Linked DNA regions of Homo sapiens. The protein of the gene in region 1 interacts with the protein of each later gene in a pairwise test. Each region holds a gene or a part of one and is shown in the gene's direction. Other genes may lie near its edges.

Region 1 (7,029 bases):
GATTGTTCAAGAAAATGCCTTGCAACTTACAATATTTTGCAGCTAGTTTCTTCCGTGACCACCACAAAGACTGCATTGACTTAAATATGAAGATGTTCCAGCCATCAAAATGATGGTTGGTGATGATTTTGGATCACAAAGTGTAAGGAAAGTATTCAAGACATGAGTATCATGATTTTTTAAGGTCTGGATGAAGAGACCATTTGGATTTACTAATAAGGTAAATTCCAACTTTTATGGCAATAAAAACAACAAAAACACTTATCAGTGTAAAGCTTTGGGATCATCTATCCATTAAATGAGTTTGTCACCACAGTGAACTAAATACCTTTTATCAACAGAGACTTTCTAACCTGGGAGTAAAATTCTTGTCACAGTGCTTTTGTCACATTCTGTCTTTGCAAAAGTTGAAGGCTCCAATAGTTTCTGAAGGACTAATAGGATAGGGTTCCAACTTACTCAGAGGCTAAGAGTTTGAAATTTACTCTGAACGATGTCTGTTCACTAGACTGCGTGACTGCAGTTTGCTGTCTTGTGGCCATTTTAAGATTGTCTGTGTGCACTGACACCATTTGCGTACTCAACAACAGGTATCTACTAGGAAGGAAGGAATGGATTATCTTAGGTGCTATATATATATGTAAGTTCTGCCGGAAGTGAGCCTATTAAACTTGTGCCAATTCATTCCTTTTGCTCTTCCCAGTCTGTGCTCTCAGAATGATCAAATGCTATCTAAGTAGTGTGGTGATTTTGACTGTTTGAATGAATAAACGAAAACGTCTCCCACCATTATTTGACAGTAGAATAGAACAAAGATGACCCAGTTGGCGTGGCCACACTGTGTCTAATCCAGCCACCTTGCTCACAGCACTCAACCCACTTTGGTGTGTGCGCTCATCTGTATTTTCGTAAATGTTGAAGTCTCTTTCTATGCAGTCAGGTAGGGGTAATACCATTCTGGCTTGGATTAATTTGAGTGTAGTACAAAGTTTAGAGAAGCTTTTAAGTAGCATGAAAAGTCAGATGCTTTCGGAGGGATGGTGGTGAATGTAGGTAAATGGATCTGCACTTAGAGATCCTCAACAGCCCTTCATTCAAGATACAGCTATCATGACATCAATAATGTACCTTTGAAAAAAAATTGGCTGCAGAATTAATTACGGTGAAAAACAGTATAGGAGTTAGCACTTACATTTTAACTAAAAAGAATAGCGTCCCCATGTTTATTCAGCCCTCCCTCCAATAAAACAATTGTTGGCAAAGTAATCATGGACTTTCATTGTGTTAGTTTGAGACAACTGGATGTTTCCATTTGCCATCCTCAGCAACAAGAAGAAAGTAGTCTCAGATTAACCAGGTAAGTATTTTGTATTTCACTTAAAAAATCTTGACTGAAATATGCCTATGTGATGACACTCAACCAAATTATTTCATTAACCAGTCCACAAGATCTCCTTAAATAATGATGGCTTATTCACACTTGATGGTCTCATTCAGTGGGGCAATTTTAATACACATCTCTGAACCTATTTTTTAACCCCTCTTTTTCAGTAGTGTGGAAGGTTAGCCCTAATATTGGAGAAAATTCAGGGTAAAATTCAGATGATTCATACAGGATTTATTTTTCCTATTCCATTAATAAAACAACTTTTATAAAAATAAAAAGTAGGCTGGCACAGTGGCTCACTCCTGTAATCCCAGCATTTTGGGAGGCCGAGGCGGGTGGATCATGAGGTCGGGAGTTCAAGACCAGCGTGGCCAGGATGGTGAAACCCCATCTCTACTAAAAATACAAAAATTAGCCAGGCGTGGTGGCAGGCACCTGTAATCCCGGCTACTCGGGAGGCTGAGGCAGAGAATGGCTTGAACCCAGGAGGCATAGGTTGCAGTGAGTCACGATCGTGCCACTGCACTCCAGCCTGGGTGACAGAGCAAGACTCCGTTTCAAAAAATAATAATAAAATAAAATGAAATAAAGTAAAGCTGCATGTTAGAGAAGTCAAGAGCATTACTTACGTTAGAATATCTGAACAGACCAATCAATTCAGTCTGATCATGATATTGATGTTTTTCTTCACCAAATCGACCACATCAGTAATTCACTTTGTTCTTCGATATCCTACAGACACTGCCTGAGTCGATAACTATGACTATCAGTCTCAGAGAGCAAATGAATTACTGAGGAAGCCCTGTAGGAGTGAGAGAAAAGGGGGGAGAGAGAGAGAAAGGGGTGGGGGGATAACAGGAGAACAGAAATTCCAAAGAGAATTGCATTCTCATTGAGTTCTTGTACCTCATGTCATTGCATAAATGTTCATCTTACTCACGTGATGACTTTGATCTGCCTTTAAAGCACCATCTGCTGCTTTCCTGGGATGCTCAACACTTCCCTCTTTCTAGCAACAAGAATTACCACTCTTCCCCTCTATACATTTATCTTTCTCTACGTGCTTTAACTTCTCAGCCTAATTTCGTCTCTGTGAGTTATTATCTATGTTAGAATAAATTCTTTGTCTTTGTTTACACACTCAGATTTGTAGTTATTTATTTAGGAATTTAGGAATAAAGATTCCATAGTCAGGAAAGGCACAATTTATAACTTGCGTGTTACCCAAAACTCTCCCCTAAGGGCTTAATATGGACATTTCTGACGAGGCCTGATGGGCAGGTGGTACGGTGATGCTAAGTTAAATTCAGAATGAAGGCCTGCCTTTCCTTCCCTCCTTCCTTCCCCTTCCCCTTCTTCCTTCCTTCCTTCCTTCCCTCCATCCCTCCCTCCTGTACTCCTCTTCTTTCTCAATTCTAAGGTGGCCTTAATTTCTAAGGGACATGGCAAAAGACAGTCTAGTTGGATGAGTGCAGTCACTAATATTATTTCCATGTATGGAAAATAACTGTTTCCTTAGTAACAATTGCATCAAATCAGTTCACCTGCTGCCCAATAGCAATCACAGGATGCATTGGGACAAATAAATATACTGACTGCCCCACAGCCACATGGTCTAAGTCAGTTACTGGAGAGCTGACTGAAGTTTGGGAAGCATATTCATCTTACGACACTGAGACATCCTCGGGGGGTTGCAAACACAGGTAGTGTGAAAATTATCAGAACATCCAAGAAAAGGAAAGTTTGACTAAGTGCCGATAAGATTTATGATGTCATGTCTGACATAGAATTGAAACCATCACAGAGCACATAGAGTGGTATATTTTCCTGTCAAATGAAAATCATTTTCTTTAAAAGTGAAATGAAAGTCTCTAAATACAAATTTACTAGAGGATGTGTAAATTTCCTACTTTTCATTACATACTCTGGACCCAACAGAGGGAAATTGGAGCTGTCAGTGAGCCATACATGCAATCTGGTACAGGATCTATGGATTGAATAGACTTTTTTTCATGGAACTACACAAAGCCAGTCTTAGTCATTTCAAAGAAAATTTGTGGTCATTTCAAAACCACCAGCAATTCCAGGGACACCAAGTTGCATAATTCTAGGGGAAAGTGGACTAAAAGTGAATGGCAGCCTCTGGAGTTATACTGAGCATTATTCTTAAAATGTCAATTTGGCAAATAGGTGGTAAGCGAGATCTGTCTGCCAGATTGTTCACATCATCTCTGCTTTAAAAAGATTGATCATAGAATATGTTAAAATAAGACCTGTGGAGAGGAGGTATGAGCTATTTAAGGTGGAAAGGTGTGGGAGAGGGTGAAATTAGTTTTAAATTTTCTAAAGCACTTTTTAACAGGAAAAGAAGTTCTTGGGCACTGAAGGCAGAATTAGATTAAAAGTATTCAATACTCTTCCATTATCAGAGAAATAGTAAAGCTACTAGAGTGCTTTCTGGTTGGGAAGGAAGAAGGCTACCAACATCTTCAAATAAAGATGAGAAGTAGAGCATATTCTTGGTGGATGAATGGATTCACGTGTACTTTTACTATATGCAAATGAAAAGAGCTTTAAAGATCAATAGTTTAGCAAGACTCTTATTTGAATAAGTGATCTTGGAGTGTTTACCCATTGTAACAAAACTCCTTTTCTCATAATTAGAATCATTAAGAAATTTCTCCTACATTTTAGATGACGGAGGTGTGTGTGCACGTGTGTGTGTATGTGTGTGTGATCAACTCATTGCATATTTCTTAAACCACAATATTGTTTAAGGAATTTTAGAAAATAATTACTCAATAGGAAAATGTTGGCCAATCCTCAGATATTTAGATAAGGCTGATTCAAATGCCTATTCTTTCACTGTTCTCACTATGACACTCTTATTTTTATTATTGGCCTGACTTCCGCAGTTATTTTGAAGTTACAGATTTTTAAATTTTGAGTTGAAAAAAAAGAGCAAATTTAGATTAAGGAATGAGAAGTAGTCCTCGCAGCCTCATGAATCTCCTGAAATTTCGAACGGCAAAATCTAAAATCTACAAGTTATTACCTTCTTACAGTAAATAGGTGGGTGTTATGGGTCGTTTTCTTTAACTTCTTTACTTGAAAAGGAATTAAATGATTTCCCTTTAACATAACTTCCCTTTGATTGTGCTCTGCTTCATGAAGTCTGATTTTATTTGCAATATAATTTACTTCAACTATTCACTGTACCCCATGAAGATTCAGCAGCATTTATAACTATTGTCCATAGTTTCAAAAACTAGGTTGTCTTTCTCTTCTCACCAAGTTTGGGATTAACTATGAAGAACCAAAGTGAACCCTTTCAACAACAAGGTTTGCTGTGGTTTTCAAGTTTTGCCTTTGTGTGGAACATTGTAATGACATAGTGGGAAAAGAAATATTTGGGGAGAGAATTAACCATGGCTGATACATAGCACGGGTATTTCTGAACAACCTACTAAATTATTTCTTAGAACATTTTGAAGTATATCTTGCCATAGGAGTGGGAACAGTTTCATACAAAAGCCTCCTCATGCTTCCAACTTTTCTTTAAAAAATTTTTTTTAAATTATTTTATTAAAAATAGAGGCCCGGCCCGATGGCTCACACTGGTAATCCCAGCACTTTAGGAGGCTGAGGTGGGCAAATCACTTGAGGCCAGGAGTTTGAGAACAGCCTGGCCAACATGGTGAAACCTCATCTCTACTAAAAATCCAAAAATTAACCAGGCCCGGTGGCTCATGCCTGTAATCCCAGCATTTTAAGAGGCTGAGGCGGGTGGATCACTTGAGCCCAGGAGATAGCGACCACCCTGGGCAACATGGCCAAACTTCATCTCTACAAGAAATACAAGTTAGCCTGGCGTGGTGGCACGCACCTGTGGTCCCAGCTACTCAGGAAGCTGAGGTGGGAGGATCACTTGAGTTCGAGGGTGCAGTGAACCAAGATCGCACCACTGCACTCCTTTGGCCTGGGACACAGAACAAGACCCTGTCTCAAAAAACAAAACAAAACAAAACAACCCCCCCCCCGCCCCACACACACACAAATAGTGGAACTATAGCACACAAGAGCCATGCATGAGTCAGTGTTCTCCACGAAAGCAAGCTTCAAAGTGGAACTGAGAGACCGGGCTCTGATCCTCACCCTCCCACTAATACCAGGGTAGCCTCAGCCAAGTCACTTAAATTCATGTCTTGAGAGAAGACAGAATTAACTAAGGAATCCCCAAACAGCAGTTCCCTTAGTTGAAATCACAAACGTACACACACATACCCTGACTAAGGAGAGCTTCAAGAAAGGCTGGAAGACTTAGGAGAGGTCAATGGTGACAATCTTAATTCAGAGTTAAGGTTGTCTCTCTGTCAACTTTGCTCAACGTTGGAGCATCTGTTGTTCTCTTGCAATCCACATTCGTTTTCGAAAACACTTCAGAAACAAAAATAGCATCAGCGGTGGTTGCCTGTGAACCTAAAACATATCATTCCAATGAATAAAATCAAGCAACCCTCCAGTTAACCTCATATCCAATTTTTCCTTTCCAGAAAGAAGAGATTTTATCGACATCGAAAGTAAATTTGCCCTAAGGACCCCTGAAGACACAGCTGAGGACACTTGCCACCTCATTCCCGGAGTAGCAGAGTCCGTGGCTACCTGTCATTTCAATCACAGCAGCAAAACCTTCATGGTGATCCATGGCTGGACGGTAAGGGAGGCTCTTTGGGGAAGAGTGGATTGGGGTGGTGAGGTATCCTGACTGGCCTGCCCAATTGTTGGGGACCCAGTGATGGGTCCGCACCCCACATCTCACGTGGATCTCCTTACACTTGAATAAAGACAGTTCTGGCTCAGGTGGGATCTGAAGCCACAGGTTCATGAGAACTCCCCCTAGGCAGTGCCAGCCTTCATTTTAACACTGTACCTGGTTGGTGCCCTTGAGCCAGAGCTTCCTGCGAGGTTGGTAAAGGATGCTCTGCCCAGCTACTGAGCAGAAGATAGGTGATTGCTGTGGGGAACCGGTGGAACCCTGGCATGATCCCGCATCACCCAGCACATTGCCAGGAGAACCTTTCTAAAGAAGACAGCATGGAAGAGTGAGGAGAGGGCTGGAGTGGAGTGAGGAAGTGTGGCGTCCATGCTGGCTTTGCCATTCTCCAGCTCTGTGCTGTGGATCAAGTCACTTGTCATCTCTGGGCCTCCATTTACTGATCTGTAAAGCAGAGGTTGCACTAGATGTCCCTAAAAACACTCTACTTCCAAAATTTTCCAGTTGTAAACTTTAGGGAGCCTTTCTGGAAATTAAAAAAAAAAAGGGCTGGGCAGGGAACTGACATGCTGACATGCCAGATGATTAGAAAAAGTGAAACTGTGATTAAATTTACTTTAAAAAATTGTTAAAAGTCCCCTCTCTAATATGTCACACAGTCACTTTAGATTATGTAGTTCTTGCTTAGTTTGTTTTAAAATGTTTCAATCCCAAGTGAGTAGACTGTGTAATTTATTTAAAAGGATTTGTGTAAAATGGCTTGTTAAAGATATATTATCTATCCATTATGTCAGAGCTTGTGAATATTATAATACTAATTTCTAGTGAGAACTAACTAAAAATAACATTCATCTAGTCCACATTTCTT
Region 2 (7,029 bases), on another chromosome or scaffold:
GGCATAAAGTTGTTTATAATATCCCCTACTTATCCCTTTAGTATTATTAGGATTTGTAGTGATATCCCTGTTTTCATTCTTGATATTAGTAATTTGAGCCTACTCTTTTTTACTGATTATTCTGGCTGTAGATTTACCAATTTTCTTACTTTCTCAAAGAAACTGCTTTTAGTTTCATTGATTTTTTTCTCTAATCCCTTTTTACTGTATTTTATTGATTAATGTGCTTACATTTATCATTTTCTTCTTTCCATTTACTTTTTACAAATTTCCTTCCGTTTCTTACATGGAGGTTCCTTACCTCCATGTTCTTTCTAGTTTCATAAGATAGAATCTTAGATTATTGACTTGATATCTTTTCTAATGTAAGTATTTGATGCTAAAATTTCCCTTAAGTACTGCTTTAGTGTATCTCACAAATTTTGGTATATTGTGTTTTTGCCTTTAGTCCAAAATATTTTTCAATTTTCTTCATAGTCTTTGACCTATGGATTATTTCGCAGTGTGGCATTTAATTTTCAAGTATTTTGAGAATTTTCCAGATATTTTTCTATTGTTGATTTCTAGTTTGACTCCATTGTGCTTGTTTACTTTGTATGATTTCAGTCCTTTTAAATTTGTTGAGCTTTGTTTTATGGCCCAGAATTCAATCTATCTTGGTGAATGTTCCGTGTGTGTTTGAAAGGAATCTGTATTTTGCTTTTGTTGGGAGGAACTCATTAATATTAATTAGGTCAAGTTGGTTGATAGTGTTGCTACAATCATATATATCCTTAGTAATTTTCTGTTTATGTGTTCTATTAGTTACTAAGAAAGGAATGTTAATTTCCATTTATAACAGTTTGATTTTTTTATTTCTCCTTTTAGATTGATCAGTACTTTCTACATGTATTGTGAAACTTTGTTATTAGGCATATGACAAATTGACCCCTTTATCATTATGAACTACCTCTATTTGTCCCTGGAAATAGTCCTTGTTCAAAAATATACTGTGTCTTATGTTGTGGTAGGCAGAATGCCCCACCCCCACAAATACACAGATACCCAGGCCCTAAGCCCTGAAACCTGTGAATATGTTATTATTTTACATGGCAAAGGGGACTTTGAAGCTATATTTATTAGCATTCGTTTCTGCTGTTACCATGACAAATTACTCTCAGTTCTTTAGGTCAGAAGTCCGGGTACAGCACAACTCAGATGGGTCTTCTGCCTAGTTTCACAGGGTCAAAATCAAAGTGTCAGGAGGGCTCTATTCCTTTCTGGAGCCTCCAGGGATTAATCTGCTTTCAAGCACATTTGGGCTATTGTCAGAATTTAGTTCCTTGGGGTTGTAGGGCTGAGGTCCCATTTACCTTGCTGGCTGTCAGCTGCGAGTTATTCTCAGCTTCTGAAGCCTGCCTGCATTCCTTGGCTCATGGTTCCTTACCTCCATGTTCAAAGCCAGAAGTAACAGGCTGAATCCTTCTCAAGTCTGGAATCTCTCTGACTTCTGCCTCATCTCTCTTCCACCACATTTCTCTGACTTACTCTTCTGCTTTCTTAAGGGCTTATGTGATTACACTGGGCACACCTGGATAATCCAGTATAATCTTCCTATTGTAAAGTTAGCTGATTAGTAACCTTAATTCCATCTGCAAAGTCCCTTCACAGTATTACTCAGATTAGTGTTTGATTGAATAATCAGGGGACAGGAATCCTGGGAAACTTCTTTAGAATTCTGCCTACCAACCACAGTTATGGACCTTAAAATAGGGAGAGTAGCCTGGCTTAACCAGGTGGACTCAGTTTCATCACATGAACTCTTAAAAGCGGAGAACTTTCTCTCAGTGGAAGCAGAAGCGATATGGCAGAAGTAGTGAGAAAACATCCCAAGCATGAGAAAGATTGAATATGCTATAGCTTGTTACTGGCTTTGAGATGTAGGGGCCTATTTACAAGGACCCAGGAGAGGCCCCTACTATCGCAAGATCAGCTGCTGCGTGACAGCAAGCAAAGAGACACATACCTCAGTCCTACAACCACAAGAAACTGGATTCTGCCAACAACCTGAATGAGCTTAGAAGTAGATTCTGCCAGAGTCCCCTGATAAGCATTCCACCAACAGACATCTTTATTTCAGCCTTGTGAGATTCTGAGTAGAGAAACCAACCAAGCCCGTCTCGCCTTTTGTCATATAGAACTGTGAGATAATAAATTTACGTTGTTTTAAGCTGCTAAGTTTGTGGTAATTTGTTACAGCAGCAATGGAAGACTAAACAGATATTAATATAGTCATTCCAGCTTTCTTTTGGTTAGTGTTTATTTGGTATAACTTTTTCTTTCCTTTTGCTTTTAATCTATCTGTGTCTTTATAGATAGATAAAGTGGGATTCTTACAGACAGCATATAGTTGTCTTGCTTACTTATCCAATCTGATCATCTTTGTCTTTCAGTTGGCCATTTATATTTAATATAGTTATTGACAGGGTTGAGTTTTAACTGTTTTCTTGCTGCAGCCTGGAAACTGCCTCTGATCTGCAAACTGGGGCAATAGTAGGGTTTACCTCCTTTATTTCCTCCTTCTCACCTGTTCTCCACTGCCTGTTGTCAATGTCTGAAAACTGTTCTTTTGTAGACTGTATCAAGCTTCTTATTTAGGCGGGAAGGTAAATTATATTCCTATTATTAAGTCAAGGCTGGAAATAGAGGTCCTCAAGAGTATAATTTCTAATTATTTCAAGGACATCCTCTGTAGCAATTCCCTTTTATATGAGACGTGAGCATGTGTGTATGTGTAATTTATTCATTCATGGAAAGTATAATACATACACTAAAATGTTCATGCCATATGAATATGACAGATGGCTGCCTTTTTAGAAATAGAATCAGTTAGTGATAGAACTTGACCATTTTCAGAGCATGTCAGCCTTTTCCAGTCTCTGTGTCTTGGTATAGCTAGTTCCTTCTGCCTGGAATACTTCCTCATCTCACTTGCTTTCCTGCCTGGCAGCTTCCTACTTGCCCTCTGGAACCAGCTCTAGGGTCACCACATCTCTGCTTCTGAGTGCCTCCTCAGACACAGTCTGTATTTCCTCTTCCAAGCTCTCATCACAAACATTGTGCTGTATTATATGTTTCTGTGTGGTCTTCCTTCTATGAGGAAGCCTTGGAAAGCAGGAGACTTATTTTAGTCTTCTTTATGTTTCTTTTATTCCCAACACATTATGTCTGCCCCATAGACCTTTTCAATAAATGATTATTGAGTTAGTGACTCCTTTTACATGCTGACAAATGTGGCTCTTATTACTCCCCATTTCAGTATCACATATTTGTAAAAGTGAATCCTTCTTAATCGTTTTACTTTTCTCCTAGTAAATTCCTCATCTATGCCTGTCTGCTGCTGTTCTCTGTGCTGCTGGCCCTTCGTTTGGATGGCATCATACAGTGGAGTTACTGGGCTGTCTTTGCTCCAATATGGCTGTGGAAGTTAATGGTCATTGTTGGAGCCTCAGTTGGAACTGGAGTCTGGGCACGAAATCCTCAATATCGGTAATACTGCTTTATACAACCCATTGGTCTCTAGCATGAGGGAGCAATATCTTGACTTTTCTCACTTTTGATGAAGTAAGGACCATTTTATTTTCTACCTATCTGGGGTCTTAGAACTATAGTATAAGCTAACAGATCTCTTCTGTGTTTTTGAAAATTTAGTCTTTGGTATGTATTTTCTTACAAAAGCAGTGCCATTTGGGGGTAAGTTGCCAGCCAGCTCACAGATGCCTATATAATCCAAAATGCACCCAAAATACAGAACTGGTATGCCATACTAGACTAAGCAGCATGAAACCACCCTGTTTTTAGGAAAAGACACTCATATTATGTTTGGTCATGAAAGATCTTTCTCCAATACAGTTTTGGAACTGGGGCTCCCCTTGTCCCACCCTCCTAGTCCCAGAGCTTTAGGACTATTAGCAGTGTAGGGGAGGTGGCTTGACCAGGAGACCATGAGTCCCTGAGACAGCAGCTGGGGAATGAGGAAAGTCAAAGATTGGATGCCGAGAAGGAAAGCAGAGCCTTTGGGGGCAGGGGAGAGGGGTACCCTTTACCGTTTCCAACTCTTGCCCTCCCTGCTCTTGGATGCCTCCGCTGGCCCAAATTCCTGGGAGTTGGCTCACGCCAGCATGCAACCTGCTTGTTGCTGGGACCTGCGAGAGTCTTTCCCTTCTCTGCCACAGAGACTGTAACTACATAAAGGGAAAAAGGGGGACTTAAGACTGGGAGGCTATTATGAACCTCCACTGGGAAAATGAGGAGTACAGGAATTCCCAGAAGGCAGCTGCTCATGTGGGAAAAGTGTAAAGTTGAAACTACCGCACCTTTTTTTTTTTTTTTTTTTTTTTTTTTTTTGAGACAGAGTTTCGCTCTTGTTGCCCAGGCTGGAGTGCAATGGTGTGATCTCGGCCCACTGCAGCCTCCACATCCCGGGTTCAAGTGATTCTCCTGCCTCGGCCTCCTGAGTAGCTGGGATTACAGGCACCTGCCACCATGCCCAGCTAATTTTTTGTATTTTTAGTAGAGATAGGGTTTCACCATGCCAGGCTAGTTTTGAACTCCTGACATCAGGTGATCCACCCGCCTTGGCCTCCTGAAGTGCTGGGATTACAGGTGTGAGCCACCACGTCCGGCCACTACATCAACTTTTTAAATTTTTGTTTACTAAATATGAAAATGATTCAGATTGTGTAAATTACATATCACATACATGTCTAAGAACTGTAAAACAGTTACACAGAGAGCCTTGGCAGGTGAGGGACATTCATGTATAGCTGTTTCAGAGTTCTTAGATTTTTTTTGAAAGATTGATGACCTGTGTGGCTGTATGTGTTTTATTTTTTTATGAGATATTTTCAGATATCTAATATTAATTGCTTCTCAAAGAATGCAAAGTTAAATAAACATTTAGGTTCTACTAATTGATATTTAGAATATATTCAAACTTCTCTTTGTTGGTCTTATTTAAGATGTTTTGAGCAAGGAAAGGAATTGTGTATGTGGGGTTGAATGTAAGGAATGTACAGGCGTGGTCATTCTCATGTTAACATTAACCAGTGGAACATGGTTGGGTCCTACAGGAATAACCTCTGATAGCATTTTCTCTATGATCTAACTTCCGGTGTATTTGTCACCCACAATACATGTATATCATAAATGTTCATCTGTATTTTGAATAAACATTGTAGGCCTTTCAGATGCATTATAGAGCCTTTTCCTGATTAGCGGCCTTACCATTGCTCAATTGTAGATCTGTTAAGGTTATTGTGCATGATACTTAGCTAATTAAACTGATTTTGTTTGAGAACAGTTTTAACTCTTGTTCTTCTTTCTCTTTCATGTGCAGGTGTTAATTTATCTTAATGGAATAGAAAGGAAAATGAAAATCATTTATACGTTTTATTTGCATTTAAAAATAGCACCTAACAATAGTTACTACTATCTTGAAATATAACTGGCACTTGTTCATAGAACTAGAGTTATTTTTATAATATTGTGTGAAGGGTGGTTTACATGGTTTCTTGAAAAATGAGGATCATGAGACTTAAGGGGTATTTGCCTGGTTTTAGCAGCAGAAGCAAATCAGCTTGAATAATCTTGGAAGTAACTCTTGTTGTTGAATTTAAAGATGTGAACAGAAGTGTTTATGTACATTGTCAGGGAAATAAGAACTGGCTATTACTTTTGAGAATATCCTTATACGGTTAAAACATTAAATTCTGGTTTGGTTGTAATGTTCATTTTGTATTATGTAGTAGTTCTTCGATGTTTCAGAGATTGCCTACCAAAGCTTAGGTTTAAGTTAGCTTTCTACCTGATTTCCCTTTGCTTTTGTCAAATTTTCAAGTAAAATTCAAAGTATAAATATAAGTTGGTATTTGCCCTGAACTGCTTGCTTATAGTGGAGATTCTGAACTGAGGGTGTTTTCTTCTTCTCTCCCTTTTTTAGAGCAGAAGGAGAAACGTGTGTGGAGTTTAAAGCCATGTTGATTGCAGTGGGCATCCACTTGCTCTTGTTGATGTTTGAAGTTCTGGTCTGTGACAGAATCGAGAGAGGAAGCCATTTCTGGCTCCTGGTCTTCATGCCGCTGTTCTTTGTTTCCCCGGTGTCTGTTGCAGCTTGCGTTTGGGGCTTTCGACATGACAGGTCACTAGAGGTGAGATTTCATATATTTAAGAATGTTTTCCACTTTGGGAGGTCAAGGCAGGTGGATCACTTGAGGTCAGGAGTTTGAGACCAGCCTGGCCAACATGGTGAAACCCCATCTCTACTAATAATACAAAAATTAGCCGGGTGTGGTGGCATGCGCCAGTAATCCCAGCTTCTCCGGAGGCTGAGGCGGGAGAATCTCTTGAACCCAGGAGGCGGAGGTTGCAGTGAGCCAAGATTGAACCATTGCACTCCAGCCTGGGTGACAGAATGAAACTCCGTCTTAAAAAAAAAAAAAAAGAATGTTTTCAAAAGTAAAATATTTTGCTCAGTTATTCAGATGTCAATTTCTTACCCTTTGTTAGGAAGAGCTTGATCATTACCAACTCTACATCATGAGACAACAAGGCAACAAAAGATGATGGAAATAACAATTTTTCTTTCTTCACTTAGAACACTAGCTTTTCACCCAGGACATCAGCCTTCTCCCAGCTTCACATCCTGTATCAATCAGACAGAAACAGAACTGATAGGTTAGATACAGATATATGTATAAAGAGAGTTAAGGAACTGGCTCACATTACTGTGGGGCTGGCAAGTCTGAAATCTCCAGGGCAGGTGAACAGGCTGGAGACCTAGGAGGAGTTGACACTGCAGTCCTGGCACAGAATTTTTTCCTCTCCAGGAAACCACAGTTTTTGCTTTTAAGGCCTTCACCTGATTGCATGAGGCCCACCCATGCTATGGAGGGTAGTCTCCTTTATTCAAAGTCAGTACCTTCACTGCAACAGCAAGCTTAGTGTTTGATTAAATAACTGGGTACTATAGCCCAGCCAAGTTGACACTCA
Region 3 (7,029 bases), on another chromosome or scaffold:
TGATATACAAGAAGAAAATAACATGAAGGCCTTGGCCGGGGTTTTTTTTGATAGAACAGAACTTGATCGGAAAGAAAAATTGACCTTTACTGAATCCACACATGTTGAAATTAAAAACTTCTCGACAGAAAAGTTGTTACAACGAATTAAAGAGATTCTCCCTCAATATGTTTCTGCATTTGCAAATACTGATGGAGGATATTTGTTCATTGGTTTAAATGAAGATAAAGAAATAATTGGCTTTAAAGCAGAGATGAGTGACCTCGATGACTTAGAAAGAGAAATCGAAAAGTCCATTAGGAAGATGCCTGTGCATCACTTCTGTATGGAGAAGAAGAAGATAAATTATTCATGCAAATTCCTTGGAGTATATGATAAAGGAAGTCTTTGTGGATATGTCTGTGCACTCAGAGTGGAGCGCTTCTGCTGTGCAGTGTTTGCTAAAGAGCCTGATTCCTGGCATGTGAAAGATAACCGTGTGATGCAGTTGACCAGGAAGGAATGGATCCAGTTCATGGTGGAGGCTGAACCAAGTTGAGAGCGGGGGATTCGCAACAGGAATGCATTTGGCTTGGGTGGCAGGGAGGTTTTCTCTATGGGATCTGGGGCAAGATCAATAGTCCTCAAATTTCAGCACCTAAACTATTAATCCCTGGTGGATACAATCAATAGTTCCCTGCCTCGGCCAGGCGCGGTGGCTCACGTCTGTATTCCCAGCACTTTGGGAGGCCAAGGCGGGCGGATCACGAGGTCAGGAGATAGAGACCATCCCTGGCTAAGATGGTGAAACCCCGTCTCTACTAAAAATACAAAAAATTAGCTGGGTGTGATGGCACGTGCCTGTAGTCCCAGCTACTCAGGAGGCTGAGGCAGGAGAATCGGTTGAAGCCAGGTGGCGGAGGTTGCAGTGGGCGGAGATTGCGCCACTGCACTCCAGCCTGGGCAACAGAGCGAGACTCCATCTCAAAAAAAAAAAAAAAAAAAAAAAGTTCCCTGCCTCTTGTTTTCTTCTATACCCTTAGAAGAAGATAGATATTTCATAAAATAAGCACATCATCTACTTTTAGTAGCCCTACCTGGTGCAAAAACCCAATTAAACCTGGAAGTTTCTTCCCTACCACGTCTATACTAGTTTTGAAGGAAACCCCGTTTAATCCTTTTCCTTTTTGTTTCTGAGCTCTATTTCAGTAAGTAACCATTGCTTTCTTTCAGGAACATTTGCCTCTTTTACTTACTTGCTCCTTCATGCTTCTTGTCCCCTTTCTATTTATTTATTTATTTATTTATTTATTTATTTATTTATTTATTTATTTTGAGACGGAGTCTTGCTCTGTCACCCAGGCTGGAGTGCAATGGCAGGATCTCGGCTTACTGCAACCTCCGCCTCCTGGATTCAAGCGATTCTCCTGCCTCAGCCTTCCGAGTAGCTGGGATTACAGGTGCCCGCCACCACGCCCAGCTAAATTTTTGTATTTTTAGTAGAGACGGAGTTTCACCATGTTGGCCAGGCTGGTCTCGAACTCTTGACCTCAGGCAATTCACCCGCCTCGGCCTCCCAAAGTGCTGGGATTACAGGCGTGAGCCACCATGCCTGGCGTCCCTTTCTATTTATTTCCTATAAAACCGCTTCCTTTTTCTTCTCACATTTGTGAGCCAAGTAGTAGCCCTAATTTGTACTAGTAAGGAAGGAATAATGCTGGTATTTTCTCTGCGTTTGGGAAAAGAAAGCCTCAAATGAAATTGGACCAGTACTAGCAATTGGACCAGTACTAGCAGCTTATAAAATGTCTGAAAATGTAAGCTTCTTCCTCAGAATCTGCACAAAAGTCAGCTTTCCTTCACTAGCCATCACGTCTCATTTTAACTGCTTTAAAAATAAACCCAATTATATGGTAATGTATTAAATTACTATTAATGCATTTTTACTGTTAATTTTCATTTGAAATATAGTGTGTCAGTGGCATCAAAAGTTAATTTTGCAATTTGTATCTGACCTAAGAATCTAACCACAATATCTAACATTAATTTTTTTTTGGAAAACAGAATCAGTTACAAGTAGACTTTTAATATATAATACTATGCATTAGTTAGTTGGGGTCTCCCTTCTGCGAAATTAAGAATGTGATATTTTTGTTTTTAAGAATTTTCCAGTTCATATGAAGAGGTGATCTCTCAAATAAATACGTCATTACCTGCTCCCCACAGTTGGCCTCTTTTGGAATGGCAACGGCAGAGACATCACTGTCCAGGTAATTTCATTCTGGCTTCTTCGGATTTGTTAGTGTGACTGTAGTCAAACCTCTTTCTCTTCAAACCAGCTCAGTCTTGAAATTTGCTCTGAAAGCACATTCTTGTGTTTATGAGAATTCTTTGGTGTTTTAAGTCATTGAATCTGTCAAATCCTATTTCTTTATATTTGGGTTAGAATTTTCTTGGTGCAATACAAACTCGTTTACTTGAAAGTAAGAGCAACCCAAGTCAGTTTAGTTTAAACAAACAAAAAAAGAAAGCATATATATCATGTCACTGAGCAGTCTAGATTGAGGCCCACCTTCAGGCATAGCTATGTTCAGTTACTGAAGAAACGCCATCAGTACTCAGGATCTCTGATTGATCTATCTGTTTTTGTTGTTGTTGTTGATGATGGGCAATTGAGTTATTTCCTGCTTTCTGTGACATGAACAGTGTTACCTTGAACATTCTTAGTCGGTCTTCTAGTGCATATGTGCAAGATTTTCTCCTGGGTGCCTAAGTAGGAGTAGAATTGTTGGCTCAGGAGGTGTGTGAATATTCAAGTAATAAGATAATGCCAAATTGTTTTGAAAGTAGATAGGTCATGTTACTCCCATCAGCAATATATTAGAAATGCCACATCTTCTCCAGTTGTCAAATTTTTCTTATTTATGGTTGTCCTTCTCTTGACCTCCTTCTTCTCAATCAAATGTGTATAAAATGGTATGTCTTTGTGATGTGCATTTCCCTGGTTATTGATTGGGTTGAGCATCTCTCCATATACTTACTGGCCATATATATTTCATCTTCTGTGCAGTGTCTATTTTGTCTTTGACCATTTTTCTAATAAGCTTTGTCTTTTTCTTATTGATTTATAGGAGTAATTTAGAGATTCTAGAATAAAATCCTCTTTTAGTCATAGGTATTAACGACTACCAAATGTTTTCTCCAAGCTGGTGGCTTGCATTTTCTCTTTTCTTAAGGTATACTCTCATAAGTAGTAGTTTTAAATTTTAATGTAGGCAAAACTATCATTTAAAATGTTGCGGTTTAGTGCTCTTTGTGCCTTGCATAAGAGATCCTTCTATACACTAGGATTATAAAGATATTTCTTTTAATTTTCTCCTAAAAATTTTAAAGTTTTGCACTCAACATTTAACATGTAAATACACAATCCAGAGGTGGGCGGATCACTTGAGGCCAAGAGAACAGCCTGGCCAACATGGTGAAGCCGTGTCTCTACTAAAATACAAAAATTAGCCAGGTGTGGTGGTGCACACCTGCAGACCCAGCTACTCAGGAGACTGAGGCACAAGAATCATTTGAATCCAGGAGGCGGAGCTTGCAGTGGGCTGAGATCACACCACTGTACTCCAGCCCAGGCAACAGCGTGAGACCTTGTCTCAGTAAGTAACAAACAAACAAACAAACAAATAAATAAATACACAATCCATCTCAATAGACAGTAATGTAGCATGCTATTTCATTTTATTCCATGTGGATAACAACTTTCCCAGCCGCAATACTGAAAAGTCTCACTTTCACCATGATCTGCCATGCCACCTTCATCATATTACTAAGTACAATTCACCTTTGAACAAAAGGTGCAGTCGAAAATCGGTGTATAACTTTTGACTTTCCAAAAAGTTAACTACTAATAGCTTACTTTTGACCCAAAGCCTTACCAATAACGTAGTCAATTAACACATATTTTGTGTGTATCATATACTATATTCTTACAATAAGTATCATATACTATATTCTTACAATAAAGTAAGCTAGAGAAAAGAAAATGTTATTGAGAAAGTCATAAGGAAGAGGAAATATATTTTCTATAAATTAGGTGTAAATGGATCATTTAGAGGTCTTCGTACTCATTGCCTTCACGTTGTGTAGGCTGAGGAAGAGAAGGGTTGGTCTTGCTATCTTGGGGTGGCAGAGGTGGAAGAAGATCTTGGCGTAAGTGGACCCATGCAATTCAAACCCATGTTGTTCAAGGGTCAACTGTATATCTATAGATAATCCTCTTTCTAGAATCTCTATTATGTTTCCTTGATCAAATTGTCTGTCCCTGCCACTGTAATGTTATACTAAGTATCGATATCTGGTAGGGTAAGCCCTTTAGTTTTTCTTTGAGAGTGTCTAGGCAATTTTTAATCATTTAATCTTCTATACACACTTTAGAATCTGCTTAAATGCCAAAAAAACTTTTGGGATTTTGATTTGCAGTTACAGTGCATCTCTAGATAGATTTGGGAAGACATGGCATATTTATATCAGTAAGTTGTATCCTTGAGTATAGGAAATCTTTTTACTTATTTATATCTTCTTTAATGCCTTTATAGTTTCATAAATTTCTGTGTACACATTTTGTACATCTTTTATTACACTTATGTCTAGGTTCCTTTTATTTTTGTTGTTGTAAAGATATTTTTTTTAAAAGTTCCATTTTCTTGTTTATTGCTAATGTGTAGAAATGCAGTTGATTTTTACATACTGAGTTTATATAAGGCCACATTGTTAGGTTTCCTTATTATTTTAAATAATCTGTCCATAGATTATTTACATTTTGTATAAACAAATATGCAGATCATAAAATGTTTTGTCTTTTCCTTTCCAATCTTTCTGCCTTTAATGTCTTTTTTTCTTGTCCTAATGAACTGAAGAAAACTTTTAGACAATTCTTAATGCAAATAGTCTTAGTTCAGATTTTAAAGAGAGTGTGTCTATGGCTTTCCCATTTAAATTGAGGTTTGCCCAACATGGCACATGTATACCTATGTAACAAACCTGTGCATTGTGCACATGTACCCCAGAACTTAAAGTATAATAATAAAAAAAAGAAATTGAGGTTTGCCTTAGGTACTTTGAATATACCATTATCAGGCTAAGGAAGTTTAATGATATTTCTAGTTTACTAAATGTTTTTTCTTTTTTTATCATGGATGAATACTGAATTTTATCAAACACATTTTCTACTCCTGTTGACATGATTAAATGTTTTTAATATGTTGATTGGCAAATGATGTTTAATATTTTCTATTAAGCCTTTTTTGCATTCCTGGAACAAACTCAGTTCGGTCTTGCAGTATTATCTTTTTTATGCATTTTTATTCAGCTGCTAATACTTAATTTAGAATTTCTGTATCTAAATCCATGAGTGACAAGGTCTAAGAATAGTTTTCTCTCTTTCTTTGTCTAGTATTTGTATTAAAATTGTGCTGAACTCAGAATGAGTTGGGGATTATTTCCTCTTTTCCTATCCTTTGAAAAAATTTATATAAGATTAGAATGATATGCTTGAAATTGTGGTGGAATTTGCCTGTAAAATGGTTTGTCTTCCTTTTGTGGGAAGACTGTTAGTTCTTTTTTCAATCAGGAACTGGCTCTGTCACCCAGGCTGAAGTGTAGCGGTGTGATCATGGCTCACTGCAGCTTCAAGCTCTTGGGCTCAAGTGATCCAACTGCCTCAGCCTATCAGGGCTCTAGGATTACAGGCTTGAGCCACTGTGCCTGACATATTTCTGGTTTTTTAATAAAAGGGTTGCCTACTCTTTCTGTTTCCTTCGGTGTTAATTTTGGTAAGATATTTTTAAGGAATCCTAAATTCAATAGCTGGCATCTCAGTATTAGTCTGACTTATATTTCAGATCCTTATTTCAGGCTATTTTTATTTTCTTGTGAGAACAAAGCAGATTGGTTTCAAAAATTTATTTACTTTGTGTAGTAAGTACTTTTAAAATGTATGCTTTTTCTAGGTATCTTATATGTTAATTTTTAAAATTTTTATTTCACTAGTTTTTGGGGAACAAGTGGTTTATGGTTACATGAATAAGTTCTTTAGTGGTGACTTCTGAGATTTTGGTGCAGCTATCACCTGAGCAATGTACACTGTACCCAGTGTGTAGTCTTCTATCCCTCATTCCCCTTCCACCCTTCCCCTTGAGTCCCCAAAGTCCTTTGTATCATTCTTAGTCTTTGTGTCCTCATGGCCTAGCTCCCACTTATGAGTGAGAACATACAATATTTGGTTTTCCATTCCTGAGTTACTTCAGTTAGAATAATGGTTCCCACCCCATTCAGGTTGCTGTGAATGCCATTATTTCATTCCTTTTTATGACTGATAGCATTCCATGGTGTATATATACCACATTTTCTTTATCCACTTGATGGCTGATGGGCATTTAGGCTGGTTCCATATTTTTGGAATTGCAAATTGTACTGCTATAAATGTGTGTGCAAACATCTTTCTCATGTAATGACTTATTTTCCTCTCAGTAGATACCCAGTAGTGGGATTGCTGGAGCAAATGGTAGTTCTACTTTTAATTCCCTAATGAATCTCCACACATTTTTCCACAGTGGTTGTAATAGTTTACATTCACACCAGCAGTATAAAAGAATTCCCTTTTCAGTGCATACTTGCCAACATCTATTATTTTTTGACTTTTAATTATGGCCATTCTTGCAGGTGTAAGATGGTCTCATTGTGGACTTAATTTTCATTTCCATGATCATTAGTGATGTTGAGCATATTTTCATGTTCATTGGCCATTTGTATATCTTCTTTTGAGAATTGTCTATTTATATCCTTTGCCCACTTTTTGATGGGATTCTTTGTTTTTTTCTTGCTGATTTGTTTGAGTTCCTCATAGATTCTGGATATCAGTCATTTGTCAGATGCATAGGTTGCAAATATTTTCTCCCACTCTGTGGATTGTCTTTTTACTCTGCTATTTCTTTTGCTGTGCAGAAGCCTTTTAGTTTAGTTACTTCTCATCTATTTATTTTTGTTTTT

What was found. The genes of interacting proteins can lie anywhere in the genome.
Region 2: the proteins of LPL (region 1) and TMEM185A interact in binary tests that used the Homo sapiens proteins (3 or more experiments, as listed by UniProt).
Region 3: the proteins of LPL (region 1) and SLFN12 interact in binary tests that used the Homo sapiens proteins (3 or more experiments, as listed by UniProt).

Annotation. Positions count from the first base shown.
Region 1 is NC_000008.11:19,942,240-19,949,268, forward strand, and holds part of LPL (lipoprotein lipase precursor), read left to right. Parts: intron 1-5,940; coding exon 5,941-6,101; intron 6,102-7,029. UniProt on the Homo sapiens protein: Key enzyme in triglyceride metabolism.
Region 2 is NC_000023.11:149,607,786-149,614,814, reverse strand, and holds part of TMEM185A (transmembrane protein 185A), read left to right. Parts: intron 1-3,351; coding exon 3,352-3,528; intron 3,529-5,980; coding exon 5,981-6,188; intron 6,189-7,029.
Region 3 is NC_000017.11:35,415,494-35,422,522, reverse strand, and holds part of SLFN12 (ribonuclease SLFN12), read left to right. Parts: coding exon 1-533; intron 534-2,141; coding exon 2,142-2,249; intron 2,250-7,029. UniProt on the Homo sapiens protein: Ribonuclease which is part of an E2/17beta-estradiol-induced pro-apoptotic signaling pathway.